Linked DNA regions of Homo sapiens. The protein of the gene in region 1 interacts with the protein of each later gene in a biochemical or structural test. Each region holds a gene or a part of one and is shown in the gene's direction. Other genes may lie near its edges. The genes, in order: ABL2, ERBB4 and SORBS2.

Region 1 (3,753 bases):
CTTGGCTGCTTATGAGCTTTGTGACCTGGGACAAGTTATTTAACTTTTTGTGTCTTGGACTCTTCATTTGTAAAGTGGTGATAATAATAGTACCTAGTATTAAATGAATAGTGGCTGGGCACATAGTATGAGCTAAATGTGTGTAGCTGCTGCCATTACTAATACTACTGTTATTATTAAAAACAGGAGTAATTCGGCCAGGTGCGGTGGCTCACGCCTGTAATCCCAGCACTGTGGGAGGCCGAGGTGGGCAGATCATGAGGTCAGGAGTTCGAGACCAGCCTGAGCAACATGGTGAAACCTCGTCTGTACTAAAAATAGAAAAATTAGCTGGGCATGGTGGCACGCGCCTGTAGTCCTAGCTACTCAGGAGGCTGAGACAGGAGAATCGCTTGAACCCGGGAGGTGGAGGTTGCAGTGAGCCAAGATCGCGCCACTCCAGCCTGGGTGACAGAGCGAGACTCTGTCTCAAAAAAAAAAAAAAAAAAAAAGTAGGGATAATTCAAAGATGACACCAGGATTTAGAACCTGGCTAACTGGGATGATGAAGATTCTATTGACAAGTTTGGAAGTTAGAAGCTGATTGAAAAAATGGGAATAGGTCGAGTTTATTGCCAAAGACTAGTATGAAAAGAAAGGAATTAGCAAATAATATAGGAAACAAAGGTGCAGTGAGTACTGTTTTTTAGACAGATGGGTTTAAAAAGTTTTTTTCTGTACATCATAGTTTCTTTTTTTTTTTTTTTTTTTTTTTTTTTGAGGCGGAGTCTCACTCTGTCGCCCAGGCTGGAGTGCAGTGGCGCGATCTCGGCTCACTGCAAGCTCCGCCTCCCGGGTTCACGCCATTCTCCTGCCTCAGCCTCCCGAGCAGCTGGGACTACAGGCACCTGCCACCACGCCCGGCTAATTTTTTTTTGTATTTTTAGTAGAGACAGGGTTTCACCGTGTTAGCCAAGATGGTCTTGATCTCCTGACCTCATGATCCGCCCTCTTCGGCCTCCCAAAGTGCTGGGATTACAGGCATGAGCCACCGCTTCCGGCCACGTCATAGTTTCTTAACCTCGGCGGCATTGATATTTTGGGCTGGCTAATTCTGTGTTTTGGGGGGCTGTCCTGTGCATTGTAGGATGTTTAGCAGCATCCCTGGACTCTACCCACTAGATGCCAGTAGCACCTTCTTTTTGCCCCTTACTTGTTATAAAAATGCCTCCAGACATTGTTAAATCTCTTGGGGGGCAGAATTGCCCCTAGTTGAGGACACCACTTAGAAATGTGATAGATTCTGAATTGAATGAATGAATGAATGAATTAGATTCGAAAGCTTCTCAGTGGATGTATCATTTGACCTTTACATGGTAAATGTAGGTGCTCGAATCTAGTGTACAAATTACTGTCTTGAGTTTGCCATATTGAGGTATTAGCACATAATTTCATATATGAATGTTAGGTCTGTTAGACTCTTGGGTTTACATGTAGGTTTTAATATAAGCCAAATAATACATTTAGTTAATCAGTAAAAAGGTACATACATTATGGAAATGGTTTATCAGAGTCCAGGACTTTTCTTTCTTTAGCTAAAATGGTCATTTTTTATCGTTAATAATATGTGGGTAAGCTGTGATAATAATTTGCCTTGCCAAAAGTGATTTTTGTGAATGTAATTTAGAAGGAACAAAAATAATAGAGCCATTTTTGGTATGAAAGGAGTGAGTGCTGTGTGACTTTTCTGAGATCTGCTATTTTTTTTGTCAACTCTTTTATTTTATGTTTTATTTTAGAGAAAGGTCTTGCTCTGCCACCCAGGCTGGAGTGCAGTGCTGCGATCGTAGATCGCTGCAGCCTTAAACTCCTGGACTCAAGCAATCCTCCTGCCTCAGCCTCCCGAGGAGCTGAGACTACAGGCACACGCCATCACACCTGGGTAATTTTGTGTTTTTTTTTTTTTTTTTGTAGAGACGGAGGTCTCACTATGTTGCTCAGGCTGGTCTCAAACTCCTAGGCTCAGGTGATACTCTGCCTCGGCCTCCCAAAGTGCTGGGATTATAGGCGTGAGCCACTGCGAGAGGCAAGCTCTGCTATTAAACCTTTCTGGTGAGCTGATGTTTCATGACTAATAATCTAGGGTTGAATACTTACTTGCTGTTGAATATCTCACATACCTTTTAACAGCTGAATGATTTTACTTTAGCTTCCCTCTCTCATTTTCTAAAAATTCTATTAAAAATTAACTTTAGGCTGGGCGTGGTGGCTCACACCTATAATCCCAGCACTTTGGGAGGCCGACGTGGGCAGATCACCTGAGGTCAGGAGTTCGAGATCAGCCTGGCCAACATGGTGAAACCCTGTCTCTACTAAAAAAATACAAAAATTAGCCAGGTGTGGTGGCGGGCACCTATAGTCCCAGCTACTCAGGAGGCTGAGACAGGAGAATCCCCTGAACCCCGGAGGCGGAGTTTGCAGTGAGCCGAGATCGCGCACCTGCACTCCAGCCTGGGCGACAGAGCAAGACTCCGTCTCCAAAAAAACCAACAAACAAAAACCCTTACATTATGAAGTTTGGAATAACAAAAATTTTTCCTTAAATCAAACTCATTATTTTAAGTGATCTGATTTATTTATTTATTTTTTATTTTGGATCTGTAGTTTTTTTTTTTTTTTTTTTTTTTTGTAGTGAGTAGGGTCTCACTCTCTTGCCCAGGCTGGAGTGCATTGGCGAGATCATGGCTCACTGCAGCCTTGACCTCCCAGACTCAAGTGATCCTCTCACCTCTCAGCCTCCTGAATACCTGGGACTATAGGTGCACGCCACCATGCCTTTCTATTTTTTTTTTTTTTTTGTAGAGACAGAGTTTTGCCATGTTGCCCATGGTGGTTTTGAACTCCTGGGCTCAAGTGATCTGCCTGCCTTGCCCTCCCAAAGTCCTGAGATTACAGGTGTGAGCCACCGCACCCGGCCAGTAGTTCATGTTTTAATCTTTGTGGAATGAAGGCTGTTGGCACCCCAGGTTGAAAACGATGCTATGGAAAGCACAGGAAGGCTGTTGTGAGGGAATTTTAATTGTGGTGACTTAATATAAGAACTAAACTTCATTTTTTATTTTTATTTATTTTTCTTTTTTTCTTGAGTGCCAATCCTGCAGACTAAACTTTTAAAAAAAAATCAGCTGTTAGATTTTTATTAATCTCCAAATCTGTGTAAGTTATAGATGTGTAGTTGGGGTCCATATTTTTAGCAAAGTAATAAGTTGTGGTACAGATTCTGTTCTCATAGCCCACTTGGCAGTAAAATTCCAAGTAAAGTGATGAAGTCTGAAGTTTCTCTGTAAGGGTCTTCAGCCTGCTTTATTCGATAGTTTATTTATTTACTTAGGTGGTTTTTTTTTTTTTTTGAGACAGGGTCTTGCTCTGTTGCCTAGGCTGGAGTGCTGTGGCATGATGATAGCTCACTGCAGCCTCAAACTCCTGGCTGAAGCCATTCCTGACTCAGCCTTCTGGGTAGCTGGGACTATAGGTGCGTGCTACCATGCCTGGCTAATTTTTAAATTTTTCTGTAGAGATGGGGTCTTGCTGTACTGGGCCAGGCTGGTCTTAAATTCCTAGGCTCAAGTGATTCTCCCACCTTGGCCTCCCAAAGTGCTGGGATTACAGACATGAGGCCCTGCATCTGGACTTTTTTTTTTTTTTTTTTTTTTGAGAGGGAGCCTTGCTCTGTCTCCCAGCCTGGAGTGCAGTGGCGCGATCTTGGCTCACTGC
Region 2 (3,753 bases), on another chromosome or scaffold:
AGTGGCATATTTTTGAAATGCTAATTTCTTAAGCAGAAGGAATGCACCTTATTTACTGCTCTATGTGAACAGAATAAAAATATAGGGCGGGGGATGCTGTTGTATAGATCTTTAAGATATTTCTTAATTGTAACAGAAGAGAACCTCTTTTTTCTTTTGCTTGGAAAAAAATTCAGCATTAGAGAGGATGTTTTTTAGAAATTCTAAAGGACTTTGTCTCATTTTCAATTATGCATTTTATTTAGATATATCTAGATATAGCCAAAGTCCCTTTATATGGCAATTATAAAGCCTTTGCTAACCAAAGGAATGGTTCTAAAATTCGTCTTCCTTGTATAATGGAAAATTATCAATATTGCCTTGGTATTGAAGAAAATGTATAGTAGCATTGAGGTGGTACTCTTATATACCTTAGTAGATAAACGATGAACAAGTTCAGTTCCCATTTCTTTTTTGCAGGTAACTCAGTCTTGCTTTTCATTCTATAAAAGTACATATAGCTTTCGTACATATTTAAGATACATCATTATATCTCCAAAATCATGGGGTTATTTTTCATTTGAGAAGAAAAATGTTAATAAAAGTTAAGTGGTGAAAAAGGTGTTAAATATATTTTCAAGAAAGCATCAATTCTCTTTCTTACAAGTGTTTACTGTAAGCACATCTATCGGTACAATGTTTTCTTTTTAATTTGAAATTCTCATATATATATATATAAAAGGGGGCTTTTTAGAAGAAGGTGTTATTTTTTTCTTCACAATATGTCTAAATAAATATCTGTTAGTATAACTGCAAATCGCTTGGAAATACTATAACTGTTCTGTTGTGATGAAATGACTCCAGTTATATCAGTATTCCTTTTTTTTGCTCTTAAACTCAACTGCTTTTATTTATTTTAATCATGTATGCATAGAAAGTGAAATTTTGTTGAAAATCAAGGCACTTACTGCTTTATATATATATTTTCATTTAGTCACTGGAAATGTGTCTTAATTAAGAAATTACATTAGAATATTTATCAGAGCATGAACTTTGTGGAAGATTTATGCATTTTTTATTCTAACCTGAACACAGTAAGTTTGCATTGGCTGATTTTTAGAGTTTGCATTTATTTGATGGAAAATCGTATTTCCTCCTCAAAGTGGATTCAAATATGTAGTATTCATGAGCTTTCATCCCTTTGGTTTTTAAATAGAAGTACTATTTATCATCTGTCTTATGCATTCACCCTTTCTGTTACTATAGATTCTCTCTTTACATCTTAGTATTTATTGAGTTTACATGTGTTAATATATATTTTCCCTTCCGCCACTAAGTATATTGTTTTTGTTTGTGTCTTTCCCAGTAACCTGCCACTCAGCCACTGCAGGAGTCCTCTGAGCCAGTTTTCATTCTTTCTGATAAATCTGATATGGCTGGTTGGCCAGACAATCACAAGCCATTCCATTGCTCAGATTTATTCCTGAAAGAAAATAAAAAGGCATCGATCCAAGATCACTGGCACATCTTAAAAGCCTTGACTCCAAGGCCAAACCTTTCCACAGAGAAGTCCCTCTTACCCTTTTTCTTTCTTTCTTTTCCCCTCTTGACCAAGGAAGGAAGGTGGACCACTGCTATTTAAAAAATGCTAGTGAGGCAATGAATTGTGCTCTTTCTAAGTACTCTTGGAAGCTTGATTAGAGCCACCTTGAGATTAATGGCTATGCACAGTGCATATTTTAGACAATAAATTGAATTAGGATGGCTTAAACATTGCAATGCTTTAAAGCGGTATTATTTTTGTGTTATATCAAGCTGGTTATTAGGAAAAGTTAACATGTTCTTAAAAATAGCCATAAGTTTTGGCTTTATATTATAGTGTTCTGCTACTGTTGGATATCCATGTATAGTTTGTAAGTGCCTAAAACATAAATGAAATAAATGATCAAAACGGATTTTCTGATACCTACAAACTTGTTGGTACTTGCTCTGTTTAATTTTACCAGTTTTGAGAGATACTGCTTTGTTGAGATGCTAATATTTGTACTGAAATTAGTTTTTAGAGGTTCAAGCCTACATCTGTTCTACAGAAATTAATCACCAAGCATATTCCACTGTTATCTTTTACAGTGATCTACTGAGTATCCTGTGCAGGGTAGAATTTAATCATATTAACAACTTTTCTCCAGGTTATATCATTTTAGAGATGCTCTATTATGTTACATTTCACCATATGGAACCAAATTACATGTTTTATCTAATACTCATTTTCTGAAGTATTATAAATATTGGCAGTCAGAGTTAAAACCTTACTTTTTATGATTTCTAATACAGCTATTGACTGGAGTTTTCAGTTTATAATGAAAAATAACCCCTTTTTATGAAAAAATTGTAGGTCAATGTTTCCTGAAACTGTATGTCTTCAACATAATTTGAGGGAGACTTTAATTGCCTATTTTGTGGTTAAATGGGACATGGGACGTAGTCACATTGTTTAAATCAGGATTTCTACCTTGCAGAGACAGTTCTCGAGTTTCTTAATACCTTCAGCAACTCACTGCATCTCTTTGTGACTTGGCTTCTCTGCCTGGGAGAGAAATGCATATAATGCACTATTTCTGCACTGTACAGTTTTATGAAAATAACTTTAAAGTCTTTGATATTGAGATACATTCCACTAAATTGTTTTTATAGATGTAATCTAAATTGCACATGTAATCTAAAACATGTATACCTATATTAAGAAACATAATGTAAACTTTCTAGCAAACTGTCTCTATCAAAAGAGTACCTGTCTAATGAAATAAAGAGCTTATTAACTCAAAGGCATTTGTATTTGAGGGCAATTTCCCCAAAATATTATTTTCAGAATTGTTCTATGGTCTCTTTTATTTTTTCTGAGTTGTTGGTTATTCTGAAATATTTATTAAATAAATTGCCGTATTTTCCAATTCTGTAATCAAGATTTAAGGCCACTTCCTTGTTTTCACACTTGATACTTAAACTAGTGCTTTATATTTATACAAACTTTTCAAGAGAGGAAAGCTGTCCCTTTTACAATATGGAGTTGAAATATGTGGATGTTTTGTTAACTAATTCTAAAGAGGCTATGTAGCATGTAATAATTGTTTTAGAGTTATTTCCATTTTGAATTGTTCTGCAGGCCTGTCACTTTGCACAACTCCAGGGGGCAGCAGCCACATAGACTTTAATAGGAATAGTGCATGCCTTAGCTGTGGGTAGTACAGCAACAGCCTTGCTATTGTGTGATGCTAGCGAATAAAGCACTAAAAGTTAGGAGGTTTGGATTCTGGTCATACAATCATTTGTTATGTGATCTGGGATTAGACTACTTGCTTCTGTCTCAATCGCCTTACCTTTATTAGTGTAGCTAAAAGTCATGCCTAAGCTATTAACATCTTGAATGTTTTTAATAATTCAATTAATTAGAAATGGAAAGTTTAGACTTTTTAGAAAAAAAGTTTATTGGTTTTTAATTATTTTTGTAAGTGGACCTCTTTTTTGTTGTTGTTGTTCCAAGTGAAGTCATAGGCATAGCCCTAGTTTCTAAAACAGCTGAAAGGGTAAAATAAAAAGAGAGCTGTGTAGTTAAGCTGCAGGGAGGAGGCAGCTTTGAGGCCCCTGCCGTTGACATTCCCTCACTTTCCTTTCACTGTTGCCTCTACTCTCCTGCACTGGTGTCATAGAAGTCCGGCACTAGAAACCACTGATGTAATCCAGTCATCTTATGTTTTAGGTAAGGAAACTGACAGC
Region 3 (3,753 bases), on another chromosome or scaffold:
TAGAAAACATTGTTTATTAAATTTATATTTGATTATAGCCTGAATTAGTGGGATTTTAGGGTGTTGCTTAGTTGCTTTCATTTAAAAATAAGTTTTGAGCCAAAGTAGGAACATAATGTTATGTCACTACAATTCAGAGTTTTAGTGAAATATGTTCTAGAAAAAGTTGCAAGTTATCGAGAGGGCTTCCAGTCTGGCTCAGCATTTCCTGTTTAAAAGACACCTTTCTTTTTGAGGCATCCTTACCCCACCACCATCACTCACCTCACCAACACATCTTTCACAACAGCATTTTTTAACATTGGATTTGTCTTCATTTCCCATTGTGCAACACTGGCTTTGAAAGCCAGGAGAGGCAGGAGGATTTCCTGAAGGTGTGTTTACGTTTCCATAAAACTCCGTGGGTTTTCTTTTGTTTTGTTTTTGTTTCTGTGGTCTAATTAAACCAGAATGGTAAATAAATTTGGACAAACATGCTGGCTTTCATCAGACAAAAATGAAGCAGGAGTCTGTGCCAATTTTGTTGCGTTAGCTCTGAGACCTTGAGATTCTTTCCAGCAGCTGAGGTTTGCAGCCTTAGGTAACCGGTCTCCATGAGTGGGTGGAGATGAGCCTGGGCAGGGTTCAAGCCTGAGAAGCTCAATAAAAGAATCAGTTTTCCCAAAGTGAGAAATGCCGTGTGTATCCATCAAAACAGCAGCCCAGGAACCACCATCTCTCTCAAATGTGAAACTGGAAAAGGGACCGTGAACTTTCCCCACAGATACACAAAAGATACCACCCCTTCACCTGAGCAGCCTCCAAATCAAATTCTTTACACAAGCAACAAAATAAATGGACTACCCCTAGCAAAGCTGGCCACATGCAAACATCCAAATCAGGTGACGTTTCTGTATTCCACACCTGCCTGTCTTTTTGGCCACTACTCTGGGATGCTAGCTGCCTTTCTCTGCCCTTCCCCATAATCACAAACCCCTCTCTCAAGAAAAGGCCTCAGAAGCCCATGCTCAAAAGGATATAAGTGGCTGTAAGGTCTACTGGAAGGATGAAGTTTTAACAGGAGAAGAAGCCTCTAATGTTGAAATTTCAGGCTTTGGTGCCAGGCCAGGGAAAACAATATTTTCTAGGGGATGTTGTTAGGCATTCTCTGAAGCCAACTCTATCCAGCTCCCCCAGTCCAAATGCTGGATGAACGGGGGGAAGCCAGTAGGTCACTGTTGCTTATTAATGACATAAGATTTGAGTTTAAATGATAGAATAGTTTTGTTCTACCAAAATATTATTTTCTGACTCATAAAGTAATTAAAAATAAATCATTCTTGTTCCGGAGCGGTAGTCAAGATTATCAACTTTTTTAAGTTGGCATGAAAAAATCTAAAATACCCTAGAAAGTGGTAATTATTTTCTCACATTAGCAGAATGACATGACTGTTACAGAAAGCAGCAGAAACAAATTCCCAATTTTTAAAAACCCCCTCACAGTACTGGTAATATTTTAGTACTATTATGAAGAAGTTTTCATGTTAACTGCCTATCAAATTCTTCTTGACCTTCTCAGCTACAGTAATTTCGCCTTCATTTTCCAAAAACACCAGCCCATGTTACTATTTATTATAATGTATGGTGTTTTCTTACCACAAATTCAGTGTCTGAATTCATTATTGATCAATTTCCACCACAGTATATGCTGTCAAAGAATTCAGGCCGGGAAAGGAAAGTGATAGCATTCTATCAATAATTCTTTTTTATATAAAATTATTTCAAGAGAGAGTTTTAAAATCAAATACAATTTTTCTGGGACTCATTTTAAAAAGAGACTTATGTCCATAGTCTGCTTGAAATGGAATCAGTAATAACTGCACATAGAATACATCTACTCAACTTCATAGGCTAATTACATCAAATCTTCCAATTCTACATCCTCAGAAAACACTGATCCAAACCATAACATTAAACTGATCTAAAGAATTCCTCTTAGTAAAAAAAATAATTTTCCTTTGTATAGTAATTCACACAGAGTGATTAAAAAGACATGTCTGACACATTTTGTCTATCTCCATTTAGAACCTTTGAAAATTCAATTCTCAAGCCCCCATTATTTGCTTCTGATTATGGCTAGCTAAAATTGTGATTCCTTCTTGTTTTTAAACAGTTAAATAATACAAATATCACTTATTTTATATTTTGTACTATTATTTAATGTCTAAATGATAGACGTTAGATGGCTGGACAACTGAAATGCGGGTCTGACTTATACATGTTGACATATTTTAATCCAATTTATGAATGTTACAATTTTCATGGATATTCCTCGTGAGTTTCAAAATGTTGTTAGAGTGTTCTAATGCCTGTGAAGATCTACATATTGCTATGTACCTGCTTACCAGGCTTGTACCATCCAATAGAATGCTATTTACATGCTTACCAGGCTTGTACCACCCAACAGAATGTTGTTAAGAATAGGAATGTTAAAGGAAGAATGAATATTGTTCTATCTTCTATATTTCATGAAGGTGTCAAGATGTTTTTAAACACATTCCCTTGTCCTGTTTAAGGTTTCAGGCTCTGTATAACTATACTCCCAGGAATGAAGATGAGCTGGAGCTCAGAGAAAGTGATGTCATTGATGTCATGGAAAAGTGTGATGACGGCTGGTTTGTGGGTATGTGCGCTTCTTCCTCAGGCACCTTCGGCTATTTTGTAATTTGCTTGAGTTTGCTCACTCCCGTGGTTTGCTGTGATGGCCGAGCTTCCTTTGAATTCGTAATGCCTTTGATCTTTCAGACATTCATATGCACAATGTAATCCCAAGGCTATTGCATTTTTAATATAGTTTAGTATTCACTGCTTCAGCTATGTGTGATTTTCTGCGAGCTTTATTTCCAACTCAACTGAGAGAAGACAATTTCTTTAAATAGCAAAAACCAGGAAAGATTGAGATCTAAGAACAACAACAACAAATGGTCCCCAGAAGAGAAATATCAACGCTCTGTGCTGTGGAAAATGTTAGTTGTCCACAGTGAGAATCTAATTTCAGAGGGAGTGAGATTAAGTGAACAGCTCTCCCGTTTCCTAGGTCTGACGTAGATGCCCGAACATTCAGTGACTCACCTTAACTTTAGTTTGTGGTGGAAGCAGAGAGACGTTCCATTCTTCCCACTTAAAAGGCAACTTCATCTTTACCATCCTAAAAAAAAAGACGAGAGGTCTTCTGGGAAAACATTTGTAGACAAAAGTATTTTACACTGGGCCACAGAAAGAGGTGAAAAGGAAACACAGGCTGCAGGGCAGAGAATGGAAGAGAGGAAAGGTGAGAGGAGAGGAGGGCTCACTCTAGACATCCATCGGTGGCAAAATCATGAAAGAATTGAGGCCCTGGTGCGGCCACAAGCCTCTGATTTTATTTCCATTAAAAGAAGAAAAAAAGGCCGGGTGCGGTGGCTCATGCCTGTAATTCTAGCACTTTGGGAGGCCGAGGCGGGTGGATTACCTGAGGCCAGGAGTTCGAGGCCAGCCTGGTCAACATGGTGAAACCCCGTATCTACCAAAAGTACAATAATCAGCTGGGCTTGGTGGCAGGTGCCTGTAATCCCAGCCACTCAGGAGGCTAAGGCAGGAGAATTGCTTGAACCCAAGAGGCAGAGGTTGCAGTGAGCCGAGATCATGCCACTGCACTCCAGCCTGGGCGACAAGAGCGAAACTCCATCTCAAAAACAAGGAGGAGGAGGAGGAGGGAGGAGGAGGAGGGAGGAG

Evidence for each region.
Region 2: the proteins of ABL2 (region 1) and ERBB4 form a complex in vitro, tested with the Homo sapiens proteins (2 studies listed by BioGRID and IntAct, with this or other methods).
Region 3: the proteins of ABL2 (region 1) and SORBS2 form a complex in vitro, tested with the Homo sapiens proteins (one study listed by BioGRID).

What each region holds. Positions count from the first base shown.
Region 1 is NC_000001.11:179,223,049-179,226,801, reverse strand, and holds part of ABL2 (tyrosine-protein kinase ABL2), read left to right. Parts: intron 1-3,753. UniProt on the Homo sapiens protein: Non-receptor tyrosine-protein kinase that plays an ABL1-overlapping role in key processes linked to cell growth and survival such as cytoskeleton remodeling in response to extracellular stimuli, cell motility and adhesion and receptor endocytosis.
Region 2 is NC_000002.12:212,532,203-212,535,955, reverse strand, and holds part of ERBB4 (receptor tyrosine-protein kinase erbB-4 isoform JM-a/CYT-1 precursor), read left to right. Parts: intron 1-3,753. UniProt on the Homo sapiens protein: Tyrosine-protein kinase that plays an essential role as cell surface receptor for neuregulins and EGF family members and regulates development of the heart, the central nervous system and the mammary gland, gene transcription, cell proliferation, differentiation, migration and apoptosis.
Region 3 is NC_000004.12:185,588,588-185,592,340, reverse strand, and holds part of SORBS2 (sorbin and SH3 domain-containing protein 2), read left to right. Parts: intron 1-264; exon of another isoform or gene 265-436; intron 437-2,555; coding exon 2,556-2,662; intron 2,663-3,111; exon of another isoform or gene 3,112-3,187; intron 3,188-3,753. UniProt on the Homo sapiens protein: Adapter protein that plays a role in the assembling of signaling complexes, being a link between ABL kinases and actin cytoskeleton. Can form complex with ABL1 and CBL, thus promoting ubiquitination and degradation of ABL1.